2 separate regions of the Homo sapiens genome follow, and region 1 is linked to region 2. Evidence: fine-mapped expression QTL. A gene starts in region 2. The other region holds a variant in brackets. All regions are shown on one strand. Distances are from middle to middle.

Region 1 (14,737 bases), 29 kb before region 2:
GGGTACTCTCGCTCTCCAAGGTCACCCGATCCCCCACCACCCTGAGGTGCAAAAAACATCTGGCAAGCGGGGATGGCCTGGGAGCGTGAATGTCCAGCTGGGGCCCAAGCATCAGCTTAGATGGGCGAACCGGGGCCCGGGCGGGCGAGGGGAAGAGCGCCAGGCTCCCTCACCAGCTTGAGGTGGCAGGCGGCCCGGTTCCGGTGCAGAACGGCCTGGTCCTGGGGCGTCGCGTCCAGACCCAGGGCCTGAGTGTAGGCCGCCAGGGCGCCCCCGTAGTCTCCACATTTGAACAGCTCATTGCCCTCCTTCCGCAGCTGCTCCACTGAGCTGGCCTGTAGAGAGAAAGGGGGCGGAAACGTCGGAGGGGGTTCGGGGCAGAGCCCGGGAGCTAAGGGGAGAGGAGAGGAGGGATCGGGGCGAGCCTCATGGATGGGGAGAAGGAGGCCAGGGATGGTCAGGGCGGGTGCGAAGGGGTGATGGCGCGGGGGTTGGGTACGCACCCCGGGGGTGGCCGGCCGGGGCTCGGGGGTCCCTGGACCACTCACAGTCATCGCGGAGAGGTTGTCTCGTGCCCGCGCAGGCGCAGTCTCTGGGGCGGGGCGAGTCTGGGTTCGGGACGCCACCGGCAGCTGCCCCGCCCCACTCTTGCGTCGGAGGTGGGGTCAGAGAGGGGCAGGGCTAAGGAGGGAGCGCGCCCGGGCAGGGGCGGGGCGCTTGGCTCTGGATCGCAGGTGCAGGCAAGCTCCGGGCGCACCTAAGCTGTCCCCGCAGAGACCTGCAGGGAGCTCGCGGCGGAGGACCCAGAGGGAGGCCTGCGGTGGCTCCAGCCCAGACTCCGGCCCCGACCGCAGCAGAAGTGCACGAGGTCTACGGTCATCAGGGTCACAACCAGTAGGTTGTAGAGGCCCAGCACTAGGAGCGGGCCTGGGCCCCTGCGGGAGAGAAAAAGTATCTGGATCCCGGCCCCGACCGCGCTCTCGCTGCTGCGCTCTGTGGGGGGTACAGAATCCCTGGGAGTCCGGAGAAAGCTCAGGACTCCCTCCCCAAATAAGTGTCGTCTTACATACACACATTTGCATACGAATTTAGGAGCTCATCCTAGAGCCACCCATGGGCAGATTCAGGATGGCTCCCCATTACCAGCTTGCACAGCCCCCTGAACTTCTCCTTTGTAATTGTAATCATGATCTACATGATTTTCTGTTGCGGTCTGTCCCTTCACTAGTCTGTAAGTTACAAGCCTACCACCCCATAATTTAGGAACAGAGCCCCAGATACTGGAACACCCTGTCGATGTTCCAGTGGCTCTGGGGTTGGAGATCTCACCTGAGGATGGGCGGGGGCGGAAGAGCGGACAGATTGACTTGGTACAGGGCCTCAAATTCAGCCCGGGTGCAGCAGGAGCCCCCTGCAGCCTGCAGGTGGCAGCAGTAGGCTTCCTCTGGAGAATCAGACAGACGAGGGCAAAAGAAACCAGGGTAGTGACGGCCATGGACATCCCGGGTGGTCTGGCACAAGTGAGGGTGGTGGACCAGAGCTGAAGAGAGAGGTGGGGGTGCTAGAGACAAGCAGGAGGGGCCTTTCCACAGCTCACTCCACCCCTACTGGAGAGTAAAAGAGATCAGCCCCTACCAGAAGAAAAGATGCCCTTCCACCCATCCCCATCAGTTCCAGTTCCCAGGAATAGCCCATAGCACCAGAGGCAGGTGGGCCACAGGGGTAAGTGCTGTACCTGAGAGAGAGGTTGGCTGGACAAGGGTCACCCAGCTGAAGAGCAGCAGTAGCCCCACAGATAGGCCTGTCAGCAAGGGGCCTGACCTTCTCTGGATGCCCATGAGAGTTCACTACCACCTCTGTCCTGGTCCTGGGAACCCCAACATCTCTCTTTCTAGGCCGTGACTGCAGACAATAAGGAAATAAAAGTCAAAGCCCCAAGGCCCTTGGGCACCATTAATACGAGCCTGAAGCTTCTCTATCACAGGCTTTTAGAGAGAGATGACAGGGACTGGGTTTCTGTCTCCTGTTGGAAAACGTGGGGCCTGCATTGCCAAACTGCTGAAGGAGAGAAGGCTCAAAGGACTAGAGGACAGAATGAGGGATGAGAGAGCAGCTGAGCCATTAGTATGAAGAACAAACAAGCATTTACAGCCAAATATGTTTCTACCCATTCTCCAACTTCCAGGCTGCCATGGAAGCTCTGGGAATTCTGACCCTCCTATTTCAGGTCCCAGAGACCTCAGTTCCAGCATGTGGGGCTTCCCTCCCTAACCTCTGCTACGTGGCAACCACCAAGACTAGCTGAAAACCAAGGGTGACTCCTTTCATTAGCCTTTCCCCTGAGCCTTATCTGCCCCAGCTACCAGCCAGAACACAAAAGCTACATGTCTGATTAGAGTATACTTAGCTAATAGGGAACCCCCTCTCACAGAGAAGTTCTATGGGGATCACCAGGTCTCTCTTACCCCTCAGCTGCCCCTAAGGCAGGGAATTTCTCCAGAAGGCCACCAGCCAGCAGAATTAAGTGTTATTCCAGTGCCTACCCAGGCCTGACAACATCATGCTCCCAGGACAGCAGTGACAACACTCATCACCCCAGGGGCCCACAGAAGATGCCTAGAGACTGAAATAGGAGCTCTCATAGCATAAGAAGACAAGGCAAATTTCATCTGCAACACTGAGGACAAACAAAGGCAGTTCCTGCAGAAACGTCACAGCTACCTGGGAGCCTAAGTCTGAAGCAATTAGGCAGGGCTCCCAGGGAAGGCTCTGATTTTTCAGGTCAGGCCCTAGGGTCTCCTGGAGGGTCCAAAGGTAGACTCCCCTGCCCACAGAACCTGGCCCATCCCTACAGGGAGAACTATTTTTAGAACACTTGGAGAATTTTCAGAGCTTTTACAGGTTGAAGATGGTTCTTGGGGGGAGCTTCTGGGAGAAGCTGTCTCTGACTCTGAGGGTGTGGGGATTGTTCTTTCTTCCCGCTCCCATAGTCCCCTGAGCCTTGGCCACCCTGGATTCAGAGCACTGTGAGGCCACTGCCTTATTTCTTGTCTGTCTTCCTCTTTTCCACAGACTGTGGGCTCCCAAAGAGCCAGGCTTATGTTCTTCTTGCACCCCCAACAGAGCACACTGAGCTGGGGGCTGCGATGCTGAAGGCAGCTGTCCACATCACTTGCTCTCTGCGCGGGCCGGTCAGCTCCAGAGGAATTCATCTGGGGCAGGCCCAACTCGGCCCGCTGAATTAGCCTCCACGATCCCCGGGCCTCCCCGGCGCCAGGGGGCGCTGTAAACGTTCCGTCCCTGCCCCTGCGGCCGCAGTCGTCGGCCCCATCCGCGCGATGGGCTCTGAGGCGGCGCAGCTGCTGGAGGCTGCCGACTTCGCGGCTCGCAAGCACCGGCAGCAGCGGCGGAAGGACCCCGAGGGGACCCCCTACATCAACCACCCCATCGGTGGGCGCGTCGGCCGCGGAGCGCCGGCTGCGGCACCTGGGTGGTGGGGACTGGGAAGGAAACGTGGGGGGCGTGCACCTCATTGAGCACCTGTTTTGTCCCAAGCTTAGTGCGATATACCGTTTAAGCCTCATAACAATTGGAACGGTAGGCATGATCGTTCCCTTTGTCGGTTGGCTCCCAGAGGGTAAGGTACTTGACCAAGGTCACCCAGCTAGTCAGAGTCCACAAGGGGCCACATCTGGCTCTCCAAAACCCACAACACACCGCCTTGGGACTACCTCCGACCTGACTTCCTGCTTTGCCCCTCCCCGTCAGGTGTGGCACGGATCCTGACCCACGAGGCGGGAATCACTGACATTGTGGTGTTACAGGTAACTTTCCCCCTTCTCTGCCAGGAGCCTGGGATGGGGATTAGGGGCCCCATTCAGCAATGGGCAACCCTTGGCTGACATCTCAGGGCTGAGTGGGAACTTGTCCCCAGGCGGCCCTGCTCCATGACACGGTGGAGGACACAGACACCACCCTGGATGAGGTGGAGCTACACTTTGGGGCACAAGTGCGGCGCCTGGTGGAGGAGGTAACAGATGACAAGACTCTGCCCAAGCTGGAGAGAAAGAGGCTGCAGGTGGAGCAAGCGCCCCACAGTAGCCCCGGGGCCAAACTGGTGAAGCTGGCAGACAAGCTGTACAATCTGAGGGACCTGAATCGCTGCACCCCAGAGGGTACGCTTTCGTATGGGCTGTAAGGGAAAAGGGAGGGGGATGCCGCCTTCTGAAGACACATGTTGGTCAGTTCCCCTGAAAAACCCTGGGCATTCTTAATTCCCAAATTAATCCTACTGGACCACTCTTTGATCTTCTTTCATACAGTAAAAATACAATAGCTGGGCCAAGGGGAAGTTTTCAGGACAGCTCATT[C/G]CATCAGGAACTCATGGCCTTGAACCAAGCTTGCCAGGAAGTGGGGAAAAGGCAGTGCTTTCCTTGACATCACGCTAGCAAGTTTCTGTCGACTCTTATGCAGGATGGTCAGAACATCGAGTCCAGGAATACTTCGAGTGGGCAGCGCAGGTGGTGAAGGGGCTTCAGGGAACAAACCGGCAACTGGAAGAGGCTCTAAAGCATCTGTTCAAGCAGCGGGGGCTGACAATCTGATCAGTGCTTGAAGCTATCCAGAGGCACAACTCCAGCCTCGTTCAGGCCGGACAGGATTCATACGCCATCTTTTCTGTGTCTCCTGAGCTCCCTCCATCCTTCCCAGATATTAGAGGCCAAAAAAAGACTTGCATTTTTTCTCAGTCTGAAGGTCTCCTGCTAACTAAGCTGAGCCCCGCGTGGTGGGAATCAGATGTACCCATCCATTTCTGATGCACTCACCGCCTCTCCCCAAGTCTTGGGTCTGTTTGCTATTTTGCATGGTGGGATCTCTGGCCCCTCAGGGACTTGAGATTATTTAAGTACTAGTTCCTAACACGTTCTGGAAAATAAAAATAACTCTGGGTTAAGGTTTAAGCTGCTGCTGCTCCTTCTCCAGCCTCCGACTGGTGGGCTGCATATCTTTCCTTCAGCAAAGCAGGACTAATTGTGTGTCCCGGAGTCACCTCCCTCAGGTTGCGGGCCTCAACCCCTCCGAACCTGGCTTCCTTGTCAGTGACATGGGTTGTGTAATTATCAGGTTAGACTGTGACGTGCCTGATGGAGCCTGACACATAGGTGCTCAAGAAATGGTAGCAGCCTTTCCCGTTAAGAAAGTTGGAAGGGGGCCAGGCGCGGTGTCTCTCGCCTGTAATCCCAGCACTCTGGGAGACCGAGGCGGGCGGATCACTTGAGGTCAGGAGTTCAAGACCAGCCTGGCCAGCATGGCGAGGCCCCGTCTCTACTAAAAATACAAAAAAAAATTAGCCGGGCGCAGTGGCTCGCGCCTGTAATCCCAGCTACTCAGGAGGCTGAGGCAGGAGACTCGCTTGAACCCGGGAGGCGGAGTTTGTACTGAGCCGAGATCGCGCCACTGCACTCCAGCTTGGGTGACACAGCGAGACTCCGTCTCAAAAATGAAAAAAGAAAAGACGTATCGGAAGGGAGTGCCGCCCGCTTACTGACAACCACTGCTGGGCACCGGAGAGACCCCAGCAGCAACATGATTGGGCCGGTGGGGGATTCCGGTTCCCCAGTACCTCAAGCCGCGCGGGAAACTCGGTGACTCGCAATCCCCTCGCCCTTCCGCATTGCGGGTTACTTCGGTTGTTAAGTGACAGGGACTTCCGGGAAGGCCCGGAAGTGGCCCGGGGCTGTCCGACCCCGGGAGCCCGGCGGTCGGCGTAGGGGAGGCGGTGGAACTTTGCTCGGTGGCCATGGGGAGGGATTGCCCGGTGGTGGTTTTTCAGTCGTTGCTGAGCAGCTGAGGTTTATTTTTATGTATTTTATTCTGCATCCAGTCATCCATTAAAGCCAAAGTTTATTAAGTTGTCTGGAAAAGCGATCATCTTGGGTACGAGGAAATTGTTAGGTCAAAGCTGTTCGACTACGATAGTTGTTTGCCCAAGTGAAGGCCCCAGCGGAGGGCTCTGCGAAAAAGTAGGTGAAAGGCAACCAAAAAAGCCGAATTAAAAGAAAACAAATGAACAAAGTTCAGAGTAATCCCCAGGGTATGGTACATTTTGGAGAACTTTGAACTTAATTTTTTTAAATAGTTTTGCGGGAGTAAGATAACGAGATTTTTTTAAGAAAAGATGACTTTGTTGTAGTCCACTTTATATATTTTGTTGCCTGTGTTTTTAGTGTCATATCTAAGAAATCGTTGCCAAATCTAATGCCATGAAGCTTTTCCTGTTTTCTTCTAGGAGCTTTCGTTTTAGCTTTTTTTTTTGAGACGGAGTTTCACTCTTGTTGCCCAGGCTGGAGTGCAATGGTGCCATCTCTGCTCACCATAACCTCCGCTTCCCGGGTTCAAGCTATTCTCCTGCCTCAGTCTCCCGAGTAGCTGGGATAACAGGCGTGCGCCACCACGCATGGCTAATTGTTGTATTTTTAGTAGTGACGGGATTTATCCTTGCTGCCCAGGCTGGTCTTTAACTCCTGACTTCAGGTGATCCACCCGCCTTGGCCTCCCAAAGTTATCGTTTTAGCTCTTACAAGTAAAGTTTTTGATCCATTTTGGGTTAAATTTCTTTTTAAATCAATTTAATTTGGTATAAGGTATACATGATGTTATGAGGCTACATACAGGTAGTAAAAAGGTTACTATAGTGAAGCAAATTAACACATCCATCATTTCACGTAGTTACCCAATTTTTTGTTGTTTTTGTGGCAAGAACATTTTGGGTTAATTTTTGTATATGGTGTAATTTTTTTGTATATACACCATATACAAAATATATGATGTATGGTTTTGCTTGTGGATGTCCAGTTTTCCTAGCACCATTTGATGCAAGGTCTGTCCTCTTAGTACCTGTTTTTGGATTTTTTTATTTTTTATTTTTTAGTAGAGATGGCGTTCCACTAAGTTGGCCACACTGGTCTCGAACTCCTGACCTCAGGTGATCTGCCCACCTCAGCCTCCCAAAGTGCTGGGATTACAGGCGTGAGCCACTGTGCCCAGCCTTGAATAACTCTTCACAATATTGCTTTCTAGAATTTTAGTTCCTGCCTCTTTTTAAACTATAAACTAGTATTACATTTATAGCCAGTATTTAGGTGTACCCTCCCTCTCATTAGTTTATGCCCCTAGACAAATTCTCTTTTTGCTTAAGTACACCTACTTTCTTCCACTAAAGTTTTGTACATTGCAAACTGTTGAGTCTTTGCATGTCTGAAAATGTCTTCATTTCCCCCGTGCTCTTGAATGGTGTAGCTGATAGCAAATTCAAGGCTGAGTTTTCTCTAGGTTTGAATGGACTCCAGGTGTCTACTGTAGCTAACTAGATGTCTGCTATCACTGTGATTGTCTTTCCTTTGTAAGACTTTTCTATTTTTTTTTTTTTGAACAGCATCTCCAATTTGCATTCATAAAATTATTAATCCAAATTGCGAAAGTAGACTTTTACAGAGTCACAGGTCAGTAACAAAACAGGAAATGAAATGTTCCAGAGCCTTTTTTTTTTTTTAAGATGGATTCTCGCTCTGTCACCCAGGCTGGAGTACAGTGGCGCAATCTCGGCTCACTGCAACCTCTGCCTCCTGGGTTCAAGCGATTCTTATGCCACAGCCTCCCTAGTAGCTGGGATTACAGATGTGTGCCACCACGCCCGGCTAATTTTTGTATTTCTAGTAGAGACAGGGTTTCACCATGCTGGCCAGGCTGGTCTCAAACTCCTGACCTCAAGTTATCCGCCTGCCTTGGCCTCCCAAAGTGCTGGGATTACAGGCATGAAGCCATCGTGCCCGGCCTCCAGAGACATTTTGATAAGTTCCAAAGAAACACACTAGGCAGGCTGGGTGCAGAGGCTCACGCCTGTAATCCCAGCAATTTGGGAGGCCCAGGCGGGTGGATCACGAAGTCAGGAGATCGAGACCATCCTGGCTAACATGGTGAAACCCCGTCTCTACTAAAAATACAAAAAAATTAGCCGGGCATGGTGGCGGGCACCTGTAGTCCCAGCTACTCGGGAGGCTGAGGCAGGAGAATCACTTGAACCCAGGAGGCGGAGGTTGCAGTGAGCCAAGGTCATGCCACTGCACTCCAGCCTGGGAGACAGAGCAAGACTCCGTCTCAAAAAAAAAAAAAAAAAAAAAGGCCAGTGTGGTGGCTCACGCCTGTAATCCCAACACTTTGGGAGGCCGAGGCGGGTGGATCATGAGGTCAGGAGATCAAGACCATCCTGGCTAACACGGTGAAACCCTGTCTCTACTAAAACTACAAAAAATTAGCCAGGCGTGGTGGCGGGCGCCTTTAGTCCCAGCTACTTGGGAGGCTGAGGCAGGAGAATCACTTGAACCTGGGAGGCAGAGGTTGCAGTGAGCCGAGATCACGCCACTGCACTCCAGCTTGGGCGACAGAGCTAGACTCCGTCTCAAAAAAAAAAAAAAAAAAAAAAAAGCTAGGCTAAAAATCTACAGTTAAACCATGGTTGTACAACAGGTTATATTCATTCCTGCAGTTTCTCAATAAGTTCTTATATTTGCCTTTCTCTTTTGAGAGTGAATCCCACTCACTCTATTGCCAAGGCTGGAGTGCAGTGGCATGATCTCAGCTAACTGCAACCTCCACCTCCCTGGTTTAAGCTATTCTTCTGCCTCAGCCTCCTGAGTAGCTTTGACTACAGGCGCATGCCACCAGCCCAGCTAATTTTTGTATTTTTAGTACAGACAGGGTTTTGCCATGTGGGCCAGGCCGATCTCAAACTCCTGACCTCAGGTGATCCACCCACCTTGGCCTCCCAAAGTGCTGGAATTACAGGCGTGAGCCACCGTGCCTGGCCTTTAGGTTTTATCTTACGTAATTTGCAATATATCTACACGAGGTTTTTTAAATTGTTTTAATTTTTTTGAGACGGAGTCGTGCTCTGTCGCTCAGGATGAAGTGCAGTGGCATGATCTTGGCTATTTGCAACCTCCATCTCCCAGGTTCAAGCGATTCTTCTGCCTCAGCCTTCCAAGTAGCTGGGATTACAGGCTATAGGCACACACCAGCATGCCCCGCTACATTTTGATTTTTCTGGTTTTTGGGTTTTTTTGTATTTTTAGTAGAGACAGGGTTTCACCACGTTGGCCAGGCTAGTCTCAAACTCCTGACCTCAAGTGATCTGCCCACGTTGGCCTCCCAAAGTACTGGGATTATAGACATGAGCCACTGCACCTGGCCTGTTTATTTATTTATTTGTTTGTTTGTTGTTGTTGTTGTTGTTTTGAGACGGAGTCTCACTCTGTCGCCCAGGCTGGAGTGCAGTGGCGCGATCTCGGCTCACTAAAACCTCTGCCTCCGGGTTCATGCCATTCTCCTGCCTCAGCCTCCCAAGTAGCTGAGACTACAGGCGCCCGCCACCATGCCCGGCTAATTTTTTGTACTTTTAGTAGAGACAAGGTTTCACCATGTTAGCCAGGATGGTCTCGATCTCCTGACCCCATGATCCGCCCGCCTCGGCCTCCCAAAGTGCTGGGATTACAGGGGTGAGCCACCGCGCCCAGCTATCTATTTTTTTTGAGATGGAGTCTTGCTCTGTCACCCAGGCTGGAGTGCAGTGGTGCGATCTCGGCTCACTGCAACCTCTGCCTCCTGGGTTCTCGCCATTCTCCTGCCTCAGCCTCCTGAGTAGCTGGGACTACAGGCGCCTGCCACCTGGCCCAGCTAATTTTTTTGTATTTTTTTAGTAGTGACGGGATCTCACCATGTTAGCCAGGATGGTCTCGATCTCCTGACCTCATGTTCCACCCGCCTCGGCCTCCCAAAGTGCTGGGATTACAGGCATGAGCCACCGCACCCGGCCTGGCCTTTTTTTTTAAATGTACCTTTCTTGGAACTTAATGAGCTCTTTGATTCTGAGATCTCACATCTTTCTTCAGTTCTGAAAAATTCACCGTCTTTGTTTTCTCATCCCTGTATTCTCACTAGTCTTTTTTTCTAAAACTGCTATGAAACATTATGCCAAAGCTTCTCAGTCTATCCTCCATCTGTCTTAGCTTCTTTTTTATATTTCTTTTATCACTGTGGTGCATTCTGGGTGATTCCTCAGTTGTTTTCCAGACCTGCTAAATTTTTATGTCATCTGCCTCCAGTCTAGGGCTTATACCATACATAGAGTATATTTCAATAATTGTATTTTTACATTTCCAGCATGTATAATTTGTAAAATCTTATTTGCTTCTTTTCAGTCAGTTTCTCATTGCAAGACTGAATATCTTTAGCTCTTTGGTGATTGCACATATATATTTTTTAAAGTATTTTTTTAGATTGCTTGCATGTCATCCTGTTTTTGTTTGCAACTTACATTTTTCCTGCCTGTGTACCTCTCAGAGTCTGGTTCTGGTCCCTTGACGTTCCTAGGTTACACTTGGTTACCTGTCCCACGTGGACTTTGAAGTCCCAGCACCTACCATCCTGAACTAGTCTCTACTTCTCTCAAGCTGTATAGCCTCAGCCTCTGCTAATGGCTGTATTATTCTCTCCATTCTTTGTCAAAGAAGATTTCCTTTATTTTGAGTTTGACAGTTTTTGCTTTCTTTTTTTTTTTTTTTTTTTTTTTTTTGAGATGGAGTCTTGCTCTGTTGCCCAGGCTGGAGTGCAATGGCAAGATCTCAGCTCACTGCAACCTCTGCCTCCTGGGTTCAAGTGATTCTCGTGCCTCAGCCTCCCAAGTAGCTGGGATTACAGGCGCCCACCACCACACCCGGCTAATTTTTGTATTTTTTAGTAGAGATGGGGTTTCGCCATGGTGGTCTGGCTGGTCTGGAACTCCTGACCTCAGGTGATCTGCCTGCCTCGGCCTCCCAAAGTGCTGGGCTGTGCCCGGCCTGTTTTTACATTTTTAGTATTTATTTAGCAATCTCTGGCATTAGGAGTTGAGAGGGCAGAATTATAGGTGTGCTTGCGCCTCTAGTTGGAATGCAAGTCTCTAGGTATGTTAGTCTGTGCTGTTATGACAAAAATACCTGAGACTGGGTAATTTATAAAGAACAGAAATTCGTTTTCTCACAGTTCTAGAAGCAGGAAGTCCAAGATGAAGGTGCTGGCAGGTTCGGTGTCTAGCGAGGGCTGCTTTTTGCTTCCAAGGTGGTCACTGCATCCTCACACAGTAAAAAAGGCAGGCTGTGTGAAGCCTCTTTCATTAGGGCCTTAATCCTATTCACGAGGGAGAAGCTCTCATGACCTAATCACCTTCTAAAGGCCCCACCTCTTAATATGCTGCATTGGAGGTTAAGTTTCAGTATGAATTTGAGAGGGACACAAATATTCAAACTTGCGGGAGGCATGCTGACTGGGAAACCCCAGTCCTTCCTACTCCACTGAGGGGCCTTCTCTAGGTCTCCACACTCAATGCTGTGTCTCAAATCTTCAACTCTGTCACATTCAGAATGACAGAGTCCGCATCTCCAACCCCACTTTGGTTTCCTGTGCCCAGACTACCTAACTACATGGATTTTTAGTTCAGGTTTATTCTCAACTAGGGAGGTCCAAAGTCAGGAGCCAGAATGTCAGGAGTCAGGAGCCAACTGCAGACCCAGCTGGTCCTGGGTACTGTTACCATCTGAATTGATTTCTCACTGACCCTAAGTAAAATTGAGGGTTGTTGCGAAGGATCTGGTCTCTGTCTTATCTCTTCTCACTATGAGAATGAGAATGAGAATGAGCCCTTGAAGTGTTTGTCCTTCACACACTTTTTTGTTAGGGAAGAACAAAGATTTTGTTCAGAGATCTCTATTGTGGATGGTAAGCCTCATTCCCACCATCCTAGACTGATTTTCCCCCTCCGTGAGTGCACAGATGCCCCAGTGACAGAGCAAGGTAAGCAAGTCAGGTTCAGGTCAAATTAAAGATGCTGCTCTCTCTGCACAAGTGGTCGAGGTTTTATGTTTTACCTACCCTGAGGCAAGCCATATGAGGACACTGTCTGGGCTGGCTCGCCCTGCATGGGAGGACCAGCTCTTAAGTGGTTCAACTGGAGCCTTTCTCTCTGTGGTTCCAACTGGCCATACAGCCCTTCCTTCTTCATGAAAGCTGGATGGTTCCAAGTAAATGTAGGAATAGAATCCGATCCGTCTCCAGTGGTTGAAATGGCTTCTGTCATGTCCTGGTTCATTTTGATGGTAACCCTCAGAACTGTGAGGCTGGCCGGGCGCAGTGGCTCACGCCTGTAATCCCAGCACTTTGGGAGGCCGAGACAGGCGGATCACTTGAGGTCAGGAGTTCAAGACCAGTCTGGCCAACATGGTGAAAACCTGTCTCTACTAAAAATACAAAAATTAGCCAGGCATGGTGGTGCACGCCTATAGTCCCAGCTACTTGGGAGGCTGAGGCATGAGAATTGCTTGAACCCAGGAGGCGGAGGTTGCAGTGAGCCGAGATTGTGCCACTGCACTCTATCCTGGGCAACAAGGCAAGACTCTGTCTCAAAAAAAAAAAAAACAAACAAACAAACCGTGAGGCCTCAGTACCACAGCTCTGTGGTAAAGGGTTGCTGCTTGCTTTAAAAGTTGGGCCATTTCCAAATTATGCATGCACAAGAATCACCTGGGAGCTTGTTAAAAATGCAAATTATTTGGCCTCTACTCCCAGAAACCAGTTCAAAGGTTGTACCCAGGAATCTGCCTTTATCCCCCTGTGCACTGAAGTCAGCTTTTGTTTCTTGCTCCTATCTCCTATGACACAGCAGTCTCAGGGCAGCTGTGGCTCTGCCCTACGCATCTGCACTGCAGCCTCCAGGCTGAAGAAGCCCTAGTCAGAACAGAAACCTGTACTTTCAATGGCAGTTCTGGTGATTCTGAATCACACCTTGAGCCATGCTGCCTTAAGTCATTTTATGTTTTTTTTTTTTGTTTTTTTGTTTTTGAGACAGAGTCTCGCTCTGTCACCCAGGCTGGAGTACAATGGCGCAATCTTGGCTCACAGCAACCTCTGCCTCCTAGGTTCAAGTGATTCTCCTGCCTCAGCCTACCGAGTAGCTGGGATTACAGGCACACACCACCACGCCCGGCTCATTTTTGTATTTTTTTGGTAGAGATGGGGTTTCGCCATGTTGTCCAGGCTGGTCTCCAACTCCTGAGCTCAGGTGGTCCACCCACCTTGGCCTCCCAAGGTGCTGGGATTACAGTCATGAGCCACCGTGCCCGGACTGCCTTAAGTCATTTTAAAGGCTTAAGTAAATAGAATTCAGCATTCGTTTCTGTCAGACAAATAATTTCATTGCACATCTAAGACTTCCAAAGATAATATCCTTTATTCTGCTCATTTTCTAGGCGTTCACAGATTCCCCTCCTATTGTTTGATTACAAATTCTACTAGCAAATGACACCTGCCACAGTGGAACTGCTTAGCATCCTTTACTAGTAGGATTATAGCTCACATTTGTGGAGCTCTCGTATATACCAGGCACCATGCTAAGCAGTTCACATTGATAATCCTATTTCTTCTGCTATGATATAAATGGGGTTCCACTGTGTGGCCTAATACGGGCAGCAACAACTCTGATGACCTGGAAGAACTCAGCCCTCTCACTCTTGTCTTTAGGTGGCAGCTTGGCAGGCCCCAGTGACTTTCTCTAAGGACCCTGAAGCAAGCTTTTCTCCTAAAGTAATTGTACTCGTTGATTTTTTTATGTGCTGCAAATATTTTCTTCCATATCTGTCATTTGTGTTTTAACCTTGATGTTTTCCATCACACAGAGACTTTCGATATTTTTTGGTTGCGAAATCTGCTTATCTTTTCCCTTATTATATCTTTTAAGTCTCATGTTAAAGTTTAGAAAAGACCGTCCCACACCAGAGGTATAAAAATTTTTGAGTAATTTTGTGGTATATCTTCCCTCTGGAACTAATTTGTATGGACACTGTGAGGTAGAGATCTAACTTAGTGGTTTTTTTTTTGGCTGTGTCACCCAGGCTGGAGTGCAGTGGCATGGTGGCATGATCTAAGCTCACTGCAACCTCCGCCTCCCAGGTTGATGTGATTCTCCTGCCTCAGCCTCCTAAGTAACTGGGATTACAGGCGCGCGCCACCATTCCTGGCTAGTTTTTGTATTTTTAGTAGACACAGGGTTTCGCCATCTTGGCCAGGCTGGTCTCGAACTCCTGACCTCAAGTGATCCACCCACCTTGGCCTCCCAAAGTGCCGGGATTACAGGCGTGAGCCATCGCACCCAGCTGAGATCTAGCTTTGATAGCTAGTTGTCTAAAAGTGCTGTTTATTAAATAATCCACCTTTTTCCCCACTTAAAACATCCCTCTTACCATATACTAAATTCCTGTAGCCCTGGGTCTGTTTCTGGACTCTCCCGTCTGTCTGACCCCCTCCAGGTCACACTGAGTGAGGTAATGGTGGCGTGAGAATCCTCTGGGAATCTGGCAGGATCACCCCCGAGCAGTCCACCCCCCAACTCATTATCATCGTTCAGAGTGGTCTTAGTGTTCTCACACATTCACTCTCCCAAATGCACTTTAGAACTGTCAATTCCAAAGTTTCAATCTCATTGGAATTACACTGAATTTATCAGCTGATTTGGGGAAAACCAGTATGTGGACAGGAACATGATGTGTATCATTGGGTTGACTTACAGAATACTCTTAACAGGTCTTCAGTTGATTCTTAGGTTTTACAGGTAGGCAGTTTTATTGTCTACAAATAATGACAATTATAATTC
Region 2 (16,698 bases):
CTCACCACCTGAGCCCACCCTCCACGTGGCACGGCCCAGACCAGAGCCAGGCCTCCCGATTCCTCTGTGAAGTGAAAGGGCTGGAAGCAGATACCTCTCTGCCACGTTGGCCTCTGTGATGGCCCGGGGTGGCACCTTCCAAGGGCAGTTGATGCGCCCACCAGGCAGGCGTTTGAAATCAAATTGGCAGCAGATCTTGGGATCTGGGCCACAGGTATGGGGGACGTCATAGCTGTAGAAGGGCATCATGTGACAGAAGATGTCTGTGCTGGAGTCCGAGTCTGCAGGAGACACACCACGTGGTCACCACCAGCAGGCAGCCTCTGGACGCCAGGGGGGCAAGGATCTGTTCAGGCTAAAGGCAGCCCTGATAGACCGCGAGGCTGTAACTGGACCTAGGGCTGGAGAGAGTGTGTAGGCCAGGGAGAAAGACATGAGGGGCTCCCTCAGGGGACGGGCACACAGGGCACGCTGAAGCCCTTGGGACAGCAGGCCCTGTAGAGGCCAGAGGTCAATATGGCCCTCCCCTAACCAGAGGGTGCGACCATTTCTGGCAGTCCACACCAGTGCCTGCAGGTCTGCTCTGAAGAACAGTGGGGGTCTTAGTTCTGATATCCCTGCTGTTCCCCAGTGAAGACTATGCTGCAGTAACCCCCTCTACCCTACCCGGCCTTACCCCATGTCTGCCTCCACATGAACTCTAGGCTGTGGGTGGCAGCAAAGTGCTTCTTGATGGCATAGTGCACTCTCTGAATCAGCATGCTGGTGAGGTTGGCACGGCGCAGCAGGTAAGGCATGGTGGAGCTGTATCCAAAGGGGTCCACTGCCCAGCCAGAGCGGGGGGTTGCACCTGGGCAGGGCATGGAAGCCAGAGAGGCCCTGAACACACCTCAGGGGCTGGCCCCCCGGCCTTCCAGGTGCTGGGACCCCAGCTCTTGTCCTGGTAGTGAGTGGAGAGATGATATCACACCAGGCCCACATGGTGGGATCTGCCTAGAAAGGAACCACCCCCTGCCGATCCCTGTGCCTTACAGCCCCTGCCTGTGCCTTACAGCCCAGGGGGCAGACCCCCATGCCTGGGCCTGGACTTACCAAGATTTCTCTCCAGCCACTGGTGTCCTTCGATGAGCTGGTCAATCAATGCAAAGTAGTGGGAATTGGCCTCATCTGGCATCACCCAGCCTCCTGTCGCAATCTCCAGCTGCCCGTTTCCCACCAGCCTATAGTTAAGGACTCACACTCAGGACGGAGCAGGACACTCTGCCCAGTCCTGCCAACCAGCAAATGTCAGGGCCTGTGTGCACTGGCCTCACTGGACCAGTTCTCCCAATCCCAGGACCAAGAGAACACACACTTGCCCTCCTTTCCTTACAGCCAACCTCCAGGCTATCCTGGCCCCGCTTATCTCGGAACCTATCTGTTTTTGCCTTCCCTCCCTCCACCATCACTCATCTCTTCCACAGCTCTCTGGGCCTCTCCCTGCCACCTTGGCACCCATAGCTTAAGGTAAGACCCGTCCACCCAGCCTGGGGCTCAGACAATGCCCTCCCATGCCTCCCCGCCTGGTACTGGCCTTCGGACTGCCGCTCTCTTTTGGACATTGATGTTGTCCCACCACTTGGCGAAGAAGGAGACCTCTGCCCAGAGGAAGCGCCGCCGGGGGTCCTCCTGCAGCTTAGACACCATGCTATTGAGGATGTGTTGGGTCTGCTCTGTGTAGTACTTGTCAAAGGTCTTGATCCAGCCTAGGGAGCCAATGTAGGGTCCCCTGAGGATGCCACCATCTTCTTCGACGTCCCTCCCTTGTATTGGCCATCAGAAATCCCACTCCACACTCCAGCTCCCAGGAGTCTGCAGGGCCCTCACCTGGGTCATTGTGAGAGTGGGGCACCACAAACACCTGCAGGTCTTCAGCATCCCAGTCGTGCGGGTCGTAGGAGATGTCGAAGCCTTGCCTCCACACACCACCATCCACGTTGTCAAACGGCAGCTCCTCCGACACAGTGAGCATCTGCCAGGTGAACTGCAGCTCAGTACCCCAGTCGTGGCCACTGTACGTCCCTGCCAGCTCTGACTCTTACCTGCAGCTCTGGCTTCTGACCCCGGCCCCCCAAAGCAAACTGGCAGTCCTGCGGGGAGATGGAGAAGAAGCTGGGCCGGGGCTCCGGTGGCACCACCCAGGAGCCATTGACCGTGTAGTAGGGCAGCATGGCGGGCGGGCCCTCTGCGTTGGCTGTCAGCTCCAGCACGGAGTCCTTGATATGGCTGATAATCTCATGGTTCTCCTCCAAAAGCTGCTCCAGCTGCTCAATGCGGTTCTGCAGCACAGAAATTTGGCTCTGCCAAAAAACCAGAAAGCAATCACACACAGCTCCTTATGCCACAGGGAGGGTCTCTGCTTGGGGTCTACCAGCTGAGGCCTGAGTACAATTCTTCCCTCATCAGTCAAAGCCAGACCATGAGCCTAGAGGGATAGATGACACCGTTCAGATAAAGGGAGCTGTGCAGATCACCACTGAGGACTACACTCCACTTGGGTTGGGAGAACCATCACTCTCTAGCTCAGGGATGGCAAAGATTTCCTTTCACCTACCTATTCTCAACAATCGGTGTTGCCTGTGCTGAGGATTTCAGCGGGGCTTAATGGCAAAGAATGCTGCAATCAATTAGCAATGTCTGCCAAGAATTCAGGAGGGGCTGGGCGCGGTGGCCCACACCTGTAATCCCAGCACTTTGGGAGGCCAAGGTGGGTGGATCACCTGAGGTCAGGAGTTCAAGACCAGCCTGGCCAACATGGCGATACCTCGTCTCGTCTCTACTAAAAATACAAAAATTAGTCGGGCATGGTGGCAGGCTCCTGTAGTCCCAGCTACTTGGGAGGCTGAGGCAGGAGAATTGCTTGAACCTGGGAGGCGGAGGTTGCAGTGAGCCAAGATCGCGCCACTGCACTCAAGGCTGGGCGACAGAGCGAGACTCTGTCTCAAAAAAAAAAAAAAGAAAGAAAAGAATTCAGGAGAACAGAGTGACAATACTCATTGCCATTGACATTTTTTCTTCCTTCCTTCTTTTCGCCATCACTGTTTTTAGCTGAGGGTTTCTACAAAACCTGACTATTGGGAAGGAAGGCTCCTGTCCTGTACTGACATTACCCTCCAGCGGGGGGTGGGAGGGGAGGCGGCGGGGTGGGAGGTGCATACCCTGAGCCCAGGTGACTTGTATACAAAGAAATTAGCAACCAGGCACGACTCACCCGGGGGAAGTTCCCACCATTCTGGTGTCGGGTGGGATCGTGTTGCACTCGGTCCAGCATGAGGTAGAGCGAGAAGACTGCCACACAGAAGATGGCAGCCCCACACACTGTCACCTGCTTTTTCAGCTTCATACTGGCCTCCACACACACCTGGCAGGAAGGACACCATCTGTAGCTCCAACATGCAAAATGCCCGTGGCAGTCTTTCCACCAAATACCCCAGTGAGTTCCTGAGGGCTGTTCCAAAGGAACACCCATTTGCCTGGCTCCAAGTAGCACAAGCAGCACATCTGAGGCTGGCCCACCTGGTCCTGGTAGCAGCTCTGCCGCTAGGGTGGAGAGGACGCTCTCCTTTGGCTGGTGCTATGAAAAACGGGCCCAGGATAAGAGTCCCAGCTCCGACTGGAGCGCACCACACAAGCTCCTGATTACACAGCTTCCCTGCCTAGATAGGAGGTGCCTGTTCAGGCTCCTCGGCCATGTGCTTCTAGTTTCAGGTGAATAAGCTAGTCTCTATTTTGTTTGATTTAAAAGTTTAGCCAGAACCCAAAGAGACTGATAGGAAAGCCTTTCTCAGTGCCCTTTCGGGTCAAACTGGCACTCACCAGAAACAGTGCCTGGCACGATCCTTTCTCAGAAACACAGAATGAGTTTCTTTCTAATAAAGAAGAAAGATGCTTGTGTTTCTAGCATAAAGCAAGCCCTGTGTGTTCTCCCTGTTTCTCTACTGTTCACTGCAGTGGGAAACTTCCAGCCGCGGTTTGCAGAGCACTTAGGGGACCCCTAGGAAGCCTGCAGTGACGCCGAAGGCCCCCTGGGAAGGGAGAGACGGGGCCCAGTGCTCAGCTGCGAGGCAACTTCAGGGGACCCGTGCCCCCCGCCGCCACCGCCCTCGGGCTCCGCTTGCCTGCTCAGGAGGAAGGAGGACGCTAACTGCGGAGCCGAGCGTGGGCGGGACCGCGCTCCGGAGTCTGCTCCGCGGGCCCTGGGGCCGAGGAGCTTTGTCGCCTCTGCGTTGTGCCCTACTTAGCGCGATCTGATTCTGCTCGGGAGCTTCCGGGCAATATTTTCAGCCCTTAGAGACTGGGTCTAGGCCAATGTGGGTGGAGCTGGGGAGAGAGTTGGATCACAGAGGGCAGGCACCTGCCGCCAGGTCTCTGGCCGCCCGCCCGGCTCCCTCCCCACCCGCTCCGACTTCGTCGGCCCCGGGGACCGCAGAGACAGGCGCCAGGTACGGGCCTCAGGCAGCCTCCTGTCCCTTCCTGGCCCCTCTGACGCCGCAGTGGCGCTCGCACTCCCGCCGCCCGAGCCCGGCCTCTGTCGGGGCAGCCGGAGCCCTCCCGCGCGCGCACCCGGCCCGTTACCGTCAGCGCCCGGCCTCCGCGCCGCTCCGGGCCCAGTCGGCCGAGCTGCCGGCTCTCACACGCCCGGGGACGGCGGCCCGCGTGCAGGCAGCGACGCAGGCGAAGGCGGGCGCCCGCCCACCCGTAGCCCCCTGCTCCGCGCGCCGCTGCCGCGCTCCCGCTGGGCCCCGGGCCGCCGGCGCGCTCCGCTGCGCCGGCCCCGCGCGGGTCCGCCAGCCTCTGAAGCTGCCGGGCCCAGCAGCGTGCGGGGCGGGGACAGCCGCGCCGCCCGCCCCGGCCTGCGTGTGCCCGGCGGAGCTGACAGGAGCTCTGGCCGCCGCGGTCCCCGCCCGGCTCCTCCCGGGCCCGCTCCGCTGGGCTGCAGTGCGCAGCCGCACCAGCCCGGGCCGGGCCTGGCCAGCTGCGGAACCTCAGGAGGGACGCGCGACTGAATTTTTTCGGAATCCTACTTGAGTAAGCGCATGATCGGGCAGTGGTCGAAACGCCCGCCTCCGTCTCGGCAGACGCGTAGCGGGGTGCGTTCTCCGCGGCCTCACCCGGCTCCGGCCCAGGTAGCCTTAGGTCTCTGTCGTTGCGCCCCTCGGGCAAAGGGGTGCTGCCTCCTGTCGGTACAGCGCATTCCTCGAGTCCCTTTCCTTTCCGTGCCTGCTCTATGTTTCCTGCCAGCGAGTGAACAAGACACAGACTTTTCTTGGCTGTTTCCCTTTTACTGGGCATCTAGGTTGTTTACAGTTTTTCAGTGTAATCCATACTGCAATGAACATCTCCATGAATTCCACATTTTTGTTCTTTTTAAGTTATATATAACATTATCTGAATGTGACCCCCCAAATTCATGTTCAAATCCTAATCCCTCAAGGTGATGATGGTATTAGGAGATGGGCCTTTGGGGGTGAACAGAGTTTGAAGGGAGAGCTCTCATGAATGGGATTAGTGCCGGTATCAAATGACCCCGAGAGTCGGCCCCTTCAACCACGTGAGAACACAGCTAGAAGGCACTATCTGTGCACCACAGGCAGGCCCTCACCCGACACTGAATCCGCTTATGCCTTATCATGGACTTTCCAGCCTCCAGAACTGTGAGAAAATACATTTCTGTTGTTGATAAACTACCTACTTTATGGTATTTTGTCCTAACAGCCCGAACAGATTAAGACGTTATTTTATGATGAATTTGCAACAGTGAAGTTACCCGGGCAAAAGATAAGGACAGAGATGACTGATGACACTATCGCTCCCCCAAAAGACTGTACCAGTTTACACCATCAATAACAAACTGCTGGATATTGCTTAAACAATGTTTTAGCTGATTAATGAGATATATAATGCCATCTCATTTTTAAAAATTTTCCTTTAAGTTCTGGGATACATGTGCAGAACATGCAGATTTGTTACATAGGTATACATGTGCCATGGTGGTTTGCTGCACCCATCAACCCATCATCTAGGTTTTAAGCCCCACATACATTAGGTGCTCTCCCTCACCTTGCCCCCAACCCCCGACAGGCCCCGGTGTGTGATGTTCCCCTCTCTGTGTCCATGTGTTTTCATTGTTAACTCCCACTTATTAGTGAGAACATGCGGTGTTTGGTTTTCTGTTCCTGTGTTAGTTTGCTGAGAATGATCAATGCTATCTCTTATTTAACGACCATTTCTTTTTTTTGAGACAATATCTCACTGTTTCCCAGGCTGGAGTGCAGTGGCACCATCTCAGCTCACTGCATCTTTGACCTTCCAGACTCAAGCCATCCTCCCACTTCAGCCTCCTGAGTAGCTGAGCCTTACAGGTATGTGCCACTACACCCAGCTAATTTTTTTATTTTTTAATTTTTTTATTTTTATTTTTTGAGACGGAGTTTCGTTCTTGTTGCCCAGGCTGGAGTGCAATGGCGCGATCTTGGCTCACTGCAACCTCCGCCTCCCAGGTTCAAGCGATTCTCCTGCCTCAGCCTCCCAAATAGCTGGGACTACAGGCACGTGCCACCATACCTGGCTAATTTTGTGTTTTTAGTAGAGATGGGGTTTTACCATGTTGTCCAGGCTGGTCTCGAACTCCTGACCTCAGGTGATCCACCTGCCTCAGCCTCCCAAAGTGCTGGGATTACAGGCGTGAGTCACTGTGCCCGGCCCTAATTTTTTTATTTTTTGTGGTGGGTGGGAGGGTCTCACTGTGTTGCCCAGGCTGTTCTCCAACTCCTGGGCTCAAGCGATCCCCCCACTTTGGCCTTCCAAAGTTCCAGGATTACAGATATGAGCCATAGTGCCCAGCTCTTTTTATTTTTTTATTGTTTTTGACAAGCTCTTGTCTGTCACCCAGGCTGGAGTGCAGTGGTGTGATCATGGTTCACTGCAGCCTCGAACTCCTGGCCTTGATCCTCCTGCCTCAGCTTCCCAAAGTGCTGTGATTACAGGGATAAGCCACTGCACTCGACTGCCACTTCTTTTATCACCATCAGGAACAGCTTTCCAGGTTTGTTTACTCACTGGAATGCCTGTTATTAGGGTGTTAGACCTAGACTGGGCTCATCATCCTCTTTGTCTTTTCATATTTTGCCTTGTGTTCTGGGAGATTTATTTTCCAGCCCTTCTATTGAATTTTCCATTTTGGTAATTTTTTTTTTTTTTTTTTTTTTTTTGAGACAAAGTCTCACTCTGTCGCTCAGGCTGAAGAGTGGTGGCGTGATCTCAGCTCACTGCAACCTCTGCTTCCCAGGTTCAAGTGATTCTTGTGCTTCAGCCTCCCGAGTAGCTGGGATTAGAAGCGCGCACCACCATGCCCAGCTAATTTTTGTATTTTTAGTAGAGATGGGGTTTCACCATGTTGGCCAGGCTGGTCTTGAACTCCTGACCTCAGGTGATTTGCCCACCTCGGCCTCCCAAAGTGTTGGGATTACAGGCGTGAGCCACCGTGCTCAGCCTCATTTTGGTGATAATCTTCTTTTTTCCTTCGTTTTGAGAGGGAGTTCTGCTCTTGTTGCCCAGGCTGGAGTGCAATGGCGTGATCTCCACTCACCACAACCTCTGCCTCTGGATTCGAGTGATTCTCTTGCCTCAGCCTCCTGAGTAGCTGGGATTACAGGCATCTGCCACCACGCCTGGCTAATTTGGTATTTTTAGTAGGGATAGGGTTTCTCCATGTTGGTTGGACTCGTCTCGAACTCCCAACCTCAGGTGATCTGCCCACCTCAGCCTCCCAAAGTGCTGGGATTACAGGCATGAGCCACCGCGCCCAGCCTGATAATCTCAATTTTCAAGAATTCTTGTTTGTTGTCTGGTGGTTCTTTTTTAAAAATTTAGGTACAGTTTACACTGTGTGGCACAAATCTTAAGTGTACAGCTTGATGGGTTTTGATAAATACATACACAAGCATAATCACCACCCAGATCAAAATGCAGGACATTCCCATCTACCCAAAATGTTCCCGTGTTAAGTGGCCAAGCAGTCCCTAAGCACACCATAGTGGCTGTCAGACTGTGGTCCAGCCTTGCCTATGTGGCCCATGTAGAGACACACATGGTTGTAAGGGCACCATGGTGAACCTTTTCCCCTCCATCTTCACACGCCTTTCCATCAGGACCCTCCAGACATAAGCACTGCTTTGACTTCTCTGTAACTTAGTTTTGCCTGTTCTTGAACTTCATAAAATAGAATCATAAGTATGAACTCTTTTCATGTCTGGCTTCTTTACTCAGTATGACTTTTTTTTTTTTTTTTTGAGACAGTCTTGCTGTCACCCAAGCTGGAGTGCAGTGGTGCGATCTCAGTTTACTGCAACCTCCGCCTCCTGGGTTCAAGTGATTCTCATGCCTTGGCCTCCTGAGTAGCTGGGACTACAGGCATGTGCCACCACACCCATCTAATTTTTGTATTTTTAGTAGAGACGGGGTTTCACCATGTTGGCCAGGCTGGTCAACTCTTGGCATCAAGTGATTTGCCCACCTTGGCCTCCCAAAGTGCTGGGGTTACAGGCATGAGCCACTGTGCCCAACCACGTCTTTGACATTCATCAATGTCGGTGCATATATTAGTGGTGTTTTGTTTGTTTGTTTTTATTGCTGTATATACGTTTGGGTCATTTTCCAGTTGTTCTGGACCTAATTTCTCTCTCCACTTCTTCTGTAACTTGAATTATTCATATAGTCCCATGTTTCTTAGCTTCCATTCTCTTTTTTCCTCTCTGTACTTCAGTTTAGGTACCTCCTTTTAACCTATTAAGTTCACTAATTCTGTTTTCTGATATGACTTAATTTCTAAATTCGATTGTGATTTTATCCTTTACTTCTATCAATGTTTATGAAATCCATCCAATGAGTTTGTAATTTCAGGGGTATTTTTCAGTTCAATAGCCTCCTTTCATCCTCTTTTAATAGATTCCAACTCTGTTGACATTCTCTACATTTGCTTCTTTTTTGTCCATCTTCTTCTCTATTTGACATATTAACCAAGTTATTTAAAAATCTTTGCCAGTTCCAATGCCTGGATCACATGTGGGTCTGCTTTTATTTATTTTTTCTTTTATGTATTAGCCCCACATTTCTCCATTTTTTGCATGGTTTATGATTTTTAATTGTATGTCACATATTGGGTATAAAAGAAGGATAGGGGCTTCAAATCTTGTTATTCCCTACAGGAGCTAGTCACTTCGATGCAATTACGTACTGAACTGGGTTGGGGCAGTGTTGGAATTGCAGTAAAATTCAATCCCCTCCTGGTTGTCCTTGTTCCTTAGGAATGGCCCTCTTGGATTTTGGATTGAAAGCCTAGTCAGTCTCTGTCTCTCTCAGATCTTAAAGTTCTGCTCTTCAGAGATTTAAAGGGAGCTCTTTAGCTTCCCAACCCACACAGGCGCAAAACCTGGCAAATACCTTATGTTGGGGAGACCAGCTATTTGTTCACTCCAGGCCTCCTCTCTAAACACTGCAAGACTGTGGGACTTGCCTTCTCAGTCTCCTGCACTGCCTCAGAACTCAGCAAATGTCCCATGGGGAAAACACTCTGCATTTTGTGCTCCTCTAGGTCCTAATCCATAGCAAGTCCTTGCAACTACCAAAAACTGTTCCTTTCTCTCTTCCCCAGTAGAGTCTCTCTGCTTGGGCCAAGTCTGATCCTCATGTCCCAAATGGGCAAATGTTTCAGGGAAGAAAATAGCTGCCTATCACTAGTTCAACTCGGAAGGGCTCTTCCCTCCTTGAAATTTTAGTCCATTCAGTCTTTATTTCTGTGACCACTCTTCATTCTTTTTAAAAATAAGACATTTCGGCCAGGCGTGGTGGCTCATCCCTGTAATCCCAACACTTTGGGAGGCCGAGGTGGGCGGGTCACTTGAGGTCAGGAGTTTGAGACCAGCCTGACCAACATGTTGAAACCCCGTCTCTACTAAAATTACAAAAATTAGCCGCTCGTAGTGATGCGTGCCTGTAATCCCAGCTACTCAGGAGGCTGAGGCAGGAGAATCGCTTGAACCCGAGAGGCAGAGGTTGCAGTGAACTGAGATCGCGCCACTGCACTCCAGCCTGTGCAACAGCGCGAGACTCCATCTCAAAAAAAAAAAAAAAAGAAAAAAAAAGACATTTTCATCTTAGCTGTTTTTTCCCTAGCGGTTGCAATGGGAGTGGTGGCGTGCAGAGACCTACCATATCCTACCTAGCAGAAGTTTTTCAGTTCTGCTTTCTACCATTTCCATTGGAGGTATTATTTCACTTCCTAGTATTTTCATTTAATTACACGACAACACAACTTCCTTTTGTTTAAACAAGTTATATGGCTCACTCTCATCTCTTTCAAAATAGATTTTTGTTTGCTGTGTTTTGTTTTTTTGAGACATAGTTTTGTTCTTCGCTCTTGTTGCCCAGGCTGGAGTGCAATGGCGCGGTCTCTGCTCACTCCAACCTTCATCTCCCCGGTTCAAGGAATTCTCCCTTCTCAGCCTCCAGAGTAGCTGGGATTACAGGTGCACACCACCACGCCTGGCTAATTTTTTTTGTATTTTTAGCAGAGACGGAGTTTCACTATGTTGGCCAGACTGGTCTCGAGCTCCTGACCTCAGGTGATCCACCTGCCTCAGCCTTCCAAAGTGCTGGGATTATAGGTGTGAGCCACTGCACCCAGCTGATGTTAACTATTTCCTGAACTTTCTTGAGGGATGGCCATTTTACTTCAAGGTTTTCATTGCCCTGTTCTGTATTACAAATGTTTCCCACTTTGTTTTTTAGTTATGTTCATACTTCCTTATCTTCTCAAACTTCGCTTTTGGTGATGTTAATATTTCAGATGACTTTTTAGGTTTCACTGGGACTTAGGGGAGGAGGTGAAGGCTCCCCAGTCTGCCATCTTATTCCTCAATAAATTCATCTTGAGAAACAACTCCCTCAAAAGCATTTTCTTCCTCATCAGCCACATCAGTCTTCTTTGAGTGGAACTCTCTTCTCATCTCCTCCTGAATTTTATGCGAGTGTTATACGCATCCATAGTGTCAGCTACTCTCTAATATTCATAAGCCAATGATTCACACATCTATTGCCAGCCTTCATCTCCATCTGGGCTTCCAGACCTATTCATCTACATTTTAAATTAATTATTTATTATTTTTATTTACTTATTTTTGAGACAGGGCCTCGCTTTGTTGCCCAGGCTGGAATGCAGTGGTGTGATCACAGCTCACTGCAGCCTCGACCTCCGAGGCTCAATTGATCCTCCTACCTCAGCCTTCTGAGTAGCTGGGACTATAGGTGTGTGCCACCACGCCTGGCTAATTTTCTTGGTTTTTTGTTTTTTGTTTTTTGTTTTTGTAAAGATGGAGTTTTGCCATGTTGCCCAGGCTGGTCTCAAACTAGGCTCAAGCAATCCACATGCCTTGGCCTCCCAAGTACCTGGGACTACAGGTGTCTACCACCACACCTGGCTTCACCCACACTTTTATCTCCAATAAAATGCAACATCTCTAAACTCAACATCCTCCTCGAAGCTCTGATCCTCTTCCTATAATCCTATTTCAGGGGATGACACCGCCATCTGGCCATAGCCTGTATATCATCCTGATCTCTCCCCCGCCTTCCGCATGTCTCACATCCAGCTGCTACTAAATCATGTCAGCTCTGCCCCATGCATACTGCCTGTCCTCCTCCTTCCCCAAGGCCACCATACCGGCACTTGTGCCTTCTGAGACCTGCCTTCCAGAGGAGTGCACATGCCAGGAGTGTTCAGTGGGCACAAGTGGTTTTATTGTTTCTGCCCGGAAGAGGAAGCCCTGGCAGCAGCAGGGACACAGAGAGGACACGGCGCTGCATCCTGCCGGCAGTGTGGATGCTGGTGGCAGGAGTCCAGGACTGTGAAGAGCTGTCAGCATATGAGCTGGAGCCGCTGAGGAGCTGCACCTAGGCCTGCAGAGGCCACCAGCTTGAGAAGGGGGTCCCAGCCTCACCGATGCCGCTTTCGGATGCTCTGCAGCTCCTGGTAGATGGTGCTGAAGCTGGGCCGCTGCCCAGGCTCATAGGCCCAGCACTGCTCCATGAGCCTGAACACGGCATCAGGACACAGCTCTGGGCAGGGCAGACGGCCCCCTGTGAGGAGAGGCACAGCACACCAGGCATGAGGAGGGAGTTTGAGGGTCCTCGGCAGACTCTGGGGGATACCATGAGCCATAGGAGCTGCTTAAGATGCACTGTTCTGAAGGATGCACTGTTCTCCACCAAGGGCCCAAAGGACAAAGAGGCCTGGCTTCTGATCCTAATCCTACCACGTGCTAGCTGTGTCCCCTCTGCCAGCCTGTTTTTCCATCTGAGAAAGGGACATATTAATCCCTACCACACATGTAGTGATGAGCAAATGAAATAACATGTGACCTAGCACAGACCAGGTGCTCACTCAGTAGTAGCTACAGGGATATTCTATTTTTTTTTTTCTTTTTCTGAGATGGAGTCTTGCTCTGTCACCCACGCTGGAATGCAGTGGTGTGATCTCAGCTCACTGCAACCTCCACCTCCCAGGTTCAAGCGATTCTTGTGCCTCAGCCTCCCAAGTAGCTGGGATTACAGGCTTGCACCACTACACCTCGCTAATTTTTTGTATTTTTAGTAGAGACAGGTTTTGCCATGTTGGCCAGGCTAGTGTCAAACTCCTAGACTCAAGTGATCCACCTTCCTCAGCCTCCCAAAATGTTGAAATTACAGGCGTGAGCCACTGCGCCCAGGTTTTTTTCTTTTTCGAGTCAAGGTCTCTCTCTCTCTCTGTCACCCAGGTTGGGGTGCAGTGGCATGATCTCAGCTCACTGCAACCTCCACCTCCCGGGCTCCAGTGATCCTCCCACCTCAGCCTCCCGAGTAGCAGGGACTACAGGCGCATGTCACCACACCCAGCTAATTTTTGTATTTTTTGTTTTTTGGTTTTTTTTGAGATGGAGTTTCACTCTTGTCGCCCAGGCTGGAGTGCAGTGGCACAATCTCGGCTCACTGCAGCCTCCGCCTCCTGGGTTCAAGCAATTCTCCCACCTCAGCCTCCCAAGTAGCTGGGATTACAGGCACGTGCCACCATGCCTGGCTAATTTTTGTATTTTTAGTAGAGATGGGGTTTCACCATGTTGGTCTGGCTGGTCTCAAACTCCTGACCACAGGTGATCCACCTGCCTCGGCCTCCCAAAGTGCTGGGATTACAGGTGTGAGCCACCGTGCCCAGTCTATTTTTGTATTTTTTGTACAGATGGAGTTTCACTGTGTTGTCCAAGCTGATCTTGAACTCCTGGGCTCAAGTGATCCACCCAGCTCAGCCTCCCAAAGTGCTGGGATGACAGGCGTGAGCAACTGGCCAGGTTATTCTTATTCTGCCTGGTGGGAAGGTTGGCATTAAGGGAGTTAGAAGAGTCCGGCTGGAGCATCTGGAAGAGGGTGCAGCCTGAGGCTGCTGTCATCACAGGGTGCTTACCCTTCTCCACAAACTCCCGTGTCTGCTGATTGCTGAGGTTGGGATAGGGGGAGGCCCCCAGGCTGAAGGTCTCCCAGAGCAAGATGCCAAAGCTCCACACGTCGCTTTCGGAGGAGTAGCGGCCTGCAGAGGAGGCGAGGAGGTGAGGCAGCGTGAGTGCACCCTCCCTGGGGCCAGGGCGAGGCAGCCGGCAGGACCCAGGCCTGGCCTCTGGCCATGGAGTCCAGGGTAGACAGGGACTAGGTACCGTAGTTAAGGGCCTCAGGTGCGGTCCACTTCACGGGGACTTGTCTGAGGCCCCCTGAGGCTGCATAGACCCCATCGGCTTCCTCTCGGGACATCCCAAAGTCACTGATCTTCAGGACATTCTTCTCTGTCACCAGGCAGTTCCGAGCAGCCAGGTCCCTGGGTGAGACAGGGCAGGGGCTCATTTGGCCAACAGTCGCCTGCCCAGCCCTGGCTGAACACTCTAGGAAAGCCAAGGACAAAAGCTGCTCCCGGCCCTGGGCACCCCTGTCTACCACAGAGGCCAACTCCCCCTCTGGAGCTGATGCCTGATGGTCCAGCGGGGGGCCCTAGGGGTATAGGTACCTCTTGACTCTGGTCGGGGGTGTTGGCAGGGCCCGTGGCCACCGCCCACTCACCGGTGGATGCAGCACTTGCTCTCCAGGTACTCCATGCCAGCAGCTGCATCCCCCACCATCTGCAGCAGAGTCTTCACCCGCAGGCGGGCCCCCTCCGTGCGGAGGAAGGTCAGGAAGTCGCCCCCTGCAGGTGGGGAGGACCCCTGCTGAGCCTCCTGAGGTAAGGCTGCCACCTGACCAGGCTGCGCGCCCTACCTGGAGCTCAGCGCCCCGCGCTCACCCTGCACAAGCTCCATGACGATGTAGATGGGCTGCTTCTGGGTGCAGACACCAATGAGACGCACGATGTTGGGGTGGCTGTACTGCTTCAGGATCCTGGAGGGCACTGCTGCTCAGGATCTACGTGGCCAGGCCCGCCTCCCCAGGGCCCCCCAGGGATGATGGGAGAAGAGCTTGGCCTCCAAGGCCAGCAGACCCGGACGTGTGACCTGGGGCAGCCTCTACCCTTCGGCACTATAAGGGGGTACTACCCGCAATGGGGGGCCTCGAGGACTAAACACCACCACGGTGGTCAAGCACTTCACACTGTGCCATGCAGTGTAACCTCTGTGTATGCGGGACCCGTGGTGATCATTAGTTTATCACCCACCTCGCTTCCTGTAGAAACTTGGCCTTGAGGTCAGGTGGGAGCGTCTCTCGACAAGACTTCACCGCCACCAGGGTGTTGTCGGCTCGCAGGCGTCCGCTGAACACTTCGCCAAAGTTCCCCTGAAACGGTCTTGGGCTCCTACCACGGCCTTCCCAGTCCCGCAGTTCTCTTCTCCGCTTCCTACCCATTCTGCTTCCTACCCCTGGGTGAGGGGCCCCCGTGTTCGGACCCCTCACCCAGGCTCTCTGGGAGTTTGACCCTCGCTGGGGAACCTAGAGAGCACATGGGGCAGGCAGGGAAAGTTGCCTCCGATGTGCCACCCTTCCTGAGAGAAGTGACATGGAAATCCAAAAATCACTCTCCCTTGGGTTTGAAAAGCATTCTGATTTTTAGGACAGTGACTTCTTCCCTAAACAGGTATCTTATGGCTTACAGTAACAGGGTGTCTCCCTGCGTGCACACAAGAGCTCGATGGGGGCGGCCTGGGTGGGGGTGATGAGGTCAGGGTGCTGGCAGAGCTGTCTGCTGGGAGTTTTCAGGGTAGGTACTGTCCCGTTTCCTGGAGGATGGTGTGTGGTGGGGGCTGGGCAGGGAGTCGGGGTACAAGTGGGGAATCAGATGGGGCAGGGAGGTCTCTGGGTGGTAGGGCAGGGGGCCCAGGCGCGACTCAGGAGAAGTCGCCAGCGACAAGGAGGCCAGCAGAGGCGCACTCACCCGTCCAATCTGCTCACCCAACACCAGGTCCTCATGGTTCAGCACCCACTTGTCCTGGGGAAGAGAGGAGACAGGGGATCAGAAGTCTGAAGAAAAGGGGTGCTGGGCCCTTAGAAGGGCTGTGTCCTCCATTTTTTGGCGCCTCCATATGTGACCAGGGGTGGGACCACGTGGGGAGCACACTGAGATGACTACGGGGTCCAGGCAGGTGCCCTGACCAGGTAAGCACCAACCTGGTGTGTACAGCCCATGGCATAGGAGTGGCCCTGACATTCCAAACCTAGAGCAAGGCTGGCCCTGAGGGTCACTCACTCTGCATCTTGTATGTAGACGGAGGGCCTGGAAAGCCCTTTCTGCTCAGACGCTGGGTGGGCCTGACCCACACTCCCCAAGCCCTGCCACAGGTGGCATGGGCCAGGCTGGGTGCAGGCTCACCTTGGGCACAGCCCTGTGCAGGACAACACCACTCTTCTTGGTGAGGGGCTGCTGGGTGCTCAGTAGGTGGTCGATGAGCAAAGGAATGCTAGGAAAGCCTTCCCCTTCCAGTCGGTACAGGTTCTGCAGGGCAGGGGACCCGGGGTCAGCAGCCTCCATTCTGAGGGGGCGTGAGCCCTGGGAGGGGGAAAGGGAGAGCAGCAGGGGAGAAAGGGCCTGCCCAGGACCAGGGGCAGAGAGACCTCCAGAAAAGATGCCATCTGATGGCACATGACATCCTGCTGCCCCACCAGGGGAGGACTCACACTTAAGCCTCTATTTTGTTGCAGGGACAGGGTGGTCTCTGTGGCCCCTTCCAGCCAGCCCTGCTAGGGAGGCATCCAAGACCTGGCAGCTACCCCCTACCCTGAAAGGCCATTTCCCTTGGGGAAGGGAAGGGAGGGGAAGAGTGAGGCCTGGAAGGCTCGGGTCCCAGCCCCACTCACATCCAAGGACTGGATGATGAAGTGCCGGGGCAGACCATCCCACAGCACCGACAGCACGTACTCCTGCTTGCCCTGGCTCTCCCGCACCAGGAAGTCCCCAGAGTGCACCAGCAGCTCAGCCACCTCTGCCCTCGGGATGGCCCCGTGGTACCACAGCTGCTCATGCAGGGGCTTCTGCACCTCCGGAATGAGCTGCAGCGGTGGAGGGAGCTGGGCAAGGGAGGATCGAGGAGGAGTCACTTAACCACCTTGTTGAAGAGGCCGTGGGGGCAGCCGGGGGTCTCTCTCTCCCCCCTATAT

Direction of the effects. Alleles are on the strand shown, and positions count from the first base shown. SD is a standard deviation of normalised expression in the study named.
With allele C in place of G in region 1, the expression in whole blood of the gene that starts at base 4,288 in region 2 is lower (small effect, 0.13 SD a copy in GTEx).

The links. PIP is the estimated chance that this variant, and not a neighbour inherited with it, causes the effect.
Region 1: its variant is fine-mapped to the expression of MAN2A2 in whole blood (GTEx, PIP 0.99).

What each region holds. Positions count from the first base shown.
Region 1 is chr15:90,921,142-90,935,878 of GRCh38, reverse strand. It overlaps HDDC3 (HD domain containing 3), which reads left to right and starts at 3,330. Exons shown (of 4, transcript NM_001286451.2): 1 at 3,330-3,450; 2 at 3,769-3,824; 3 at 3,935-4,175; 4 at 4,474-5,911. The coding sequence starts at 3,339. The coding sequence ends at 4,604. UNC45A (unc-45 myosin chaperone A) reads right to left here and starts at 594. Exons shown (of 20, transcript NM_018671.5): 1 at 504-594; 2 at 174-335. The coding sequence starts at 554. MAN2A2 (mannosidase alpha class 2A member 2) reads right to left here. Exons shown (of 23, transcript NM_006122.4): 23 at 13,300-14,737. RefSeq lists a silencer at 379-778 and enhancers at 1,409-1,508, 3,133-3,182, 3,933-4,162, 5,793-6,022. The variant C/G (reference allele first, on the strand shown) is at 4,371.
Region 2 is chr15:90,890,892-90,907,589 of GRCh38, reverse strand. MAN2A2 (mannosidase alpha class 2A member 2) reads right to left here and starts at 4,288. Exons shown (of 23, transcript NM_006122.4): 1 at 4,158-4,288; 2 at 3,251-3,400; 3 at 2,082-2,339; 4 at 1,867-2,011; 5 at 1,574-1,745; 6 at 1,093-1,220; 7 at 677-850; 8 at 95-281. The coding sequence starts at 3,382. It overlaps FES (FES proto-oncogene, tyrosine kinase), which reads right to left. Exons shown (of 19, transcript NM_002005.4): 11 at 16,399-16,608; 12 at 15,914-16,036; 13 at 15,479-15,532; 14 at 14,765-14,883; 15 at 14,396-14,490; 16 at 14,176-14,299; 17 at 13,779-13,936; 18 at 13,532-13,654; 19 at 11,814-12,174. The coding sequence ends at 12,032. RefSeq lists enhancers at 3,298-3,357, 5,198-5,247 and silencers at 4,308-4,737, 4,758-5,027.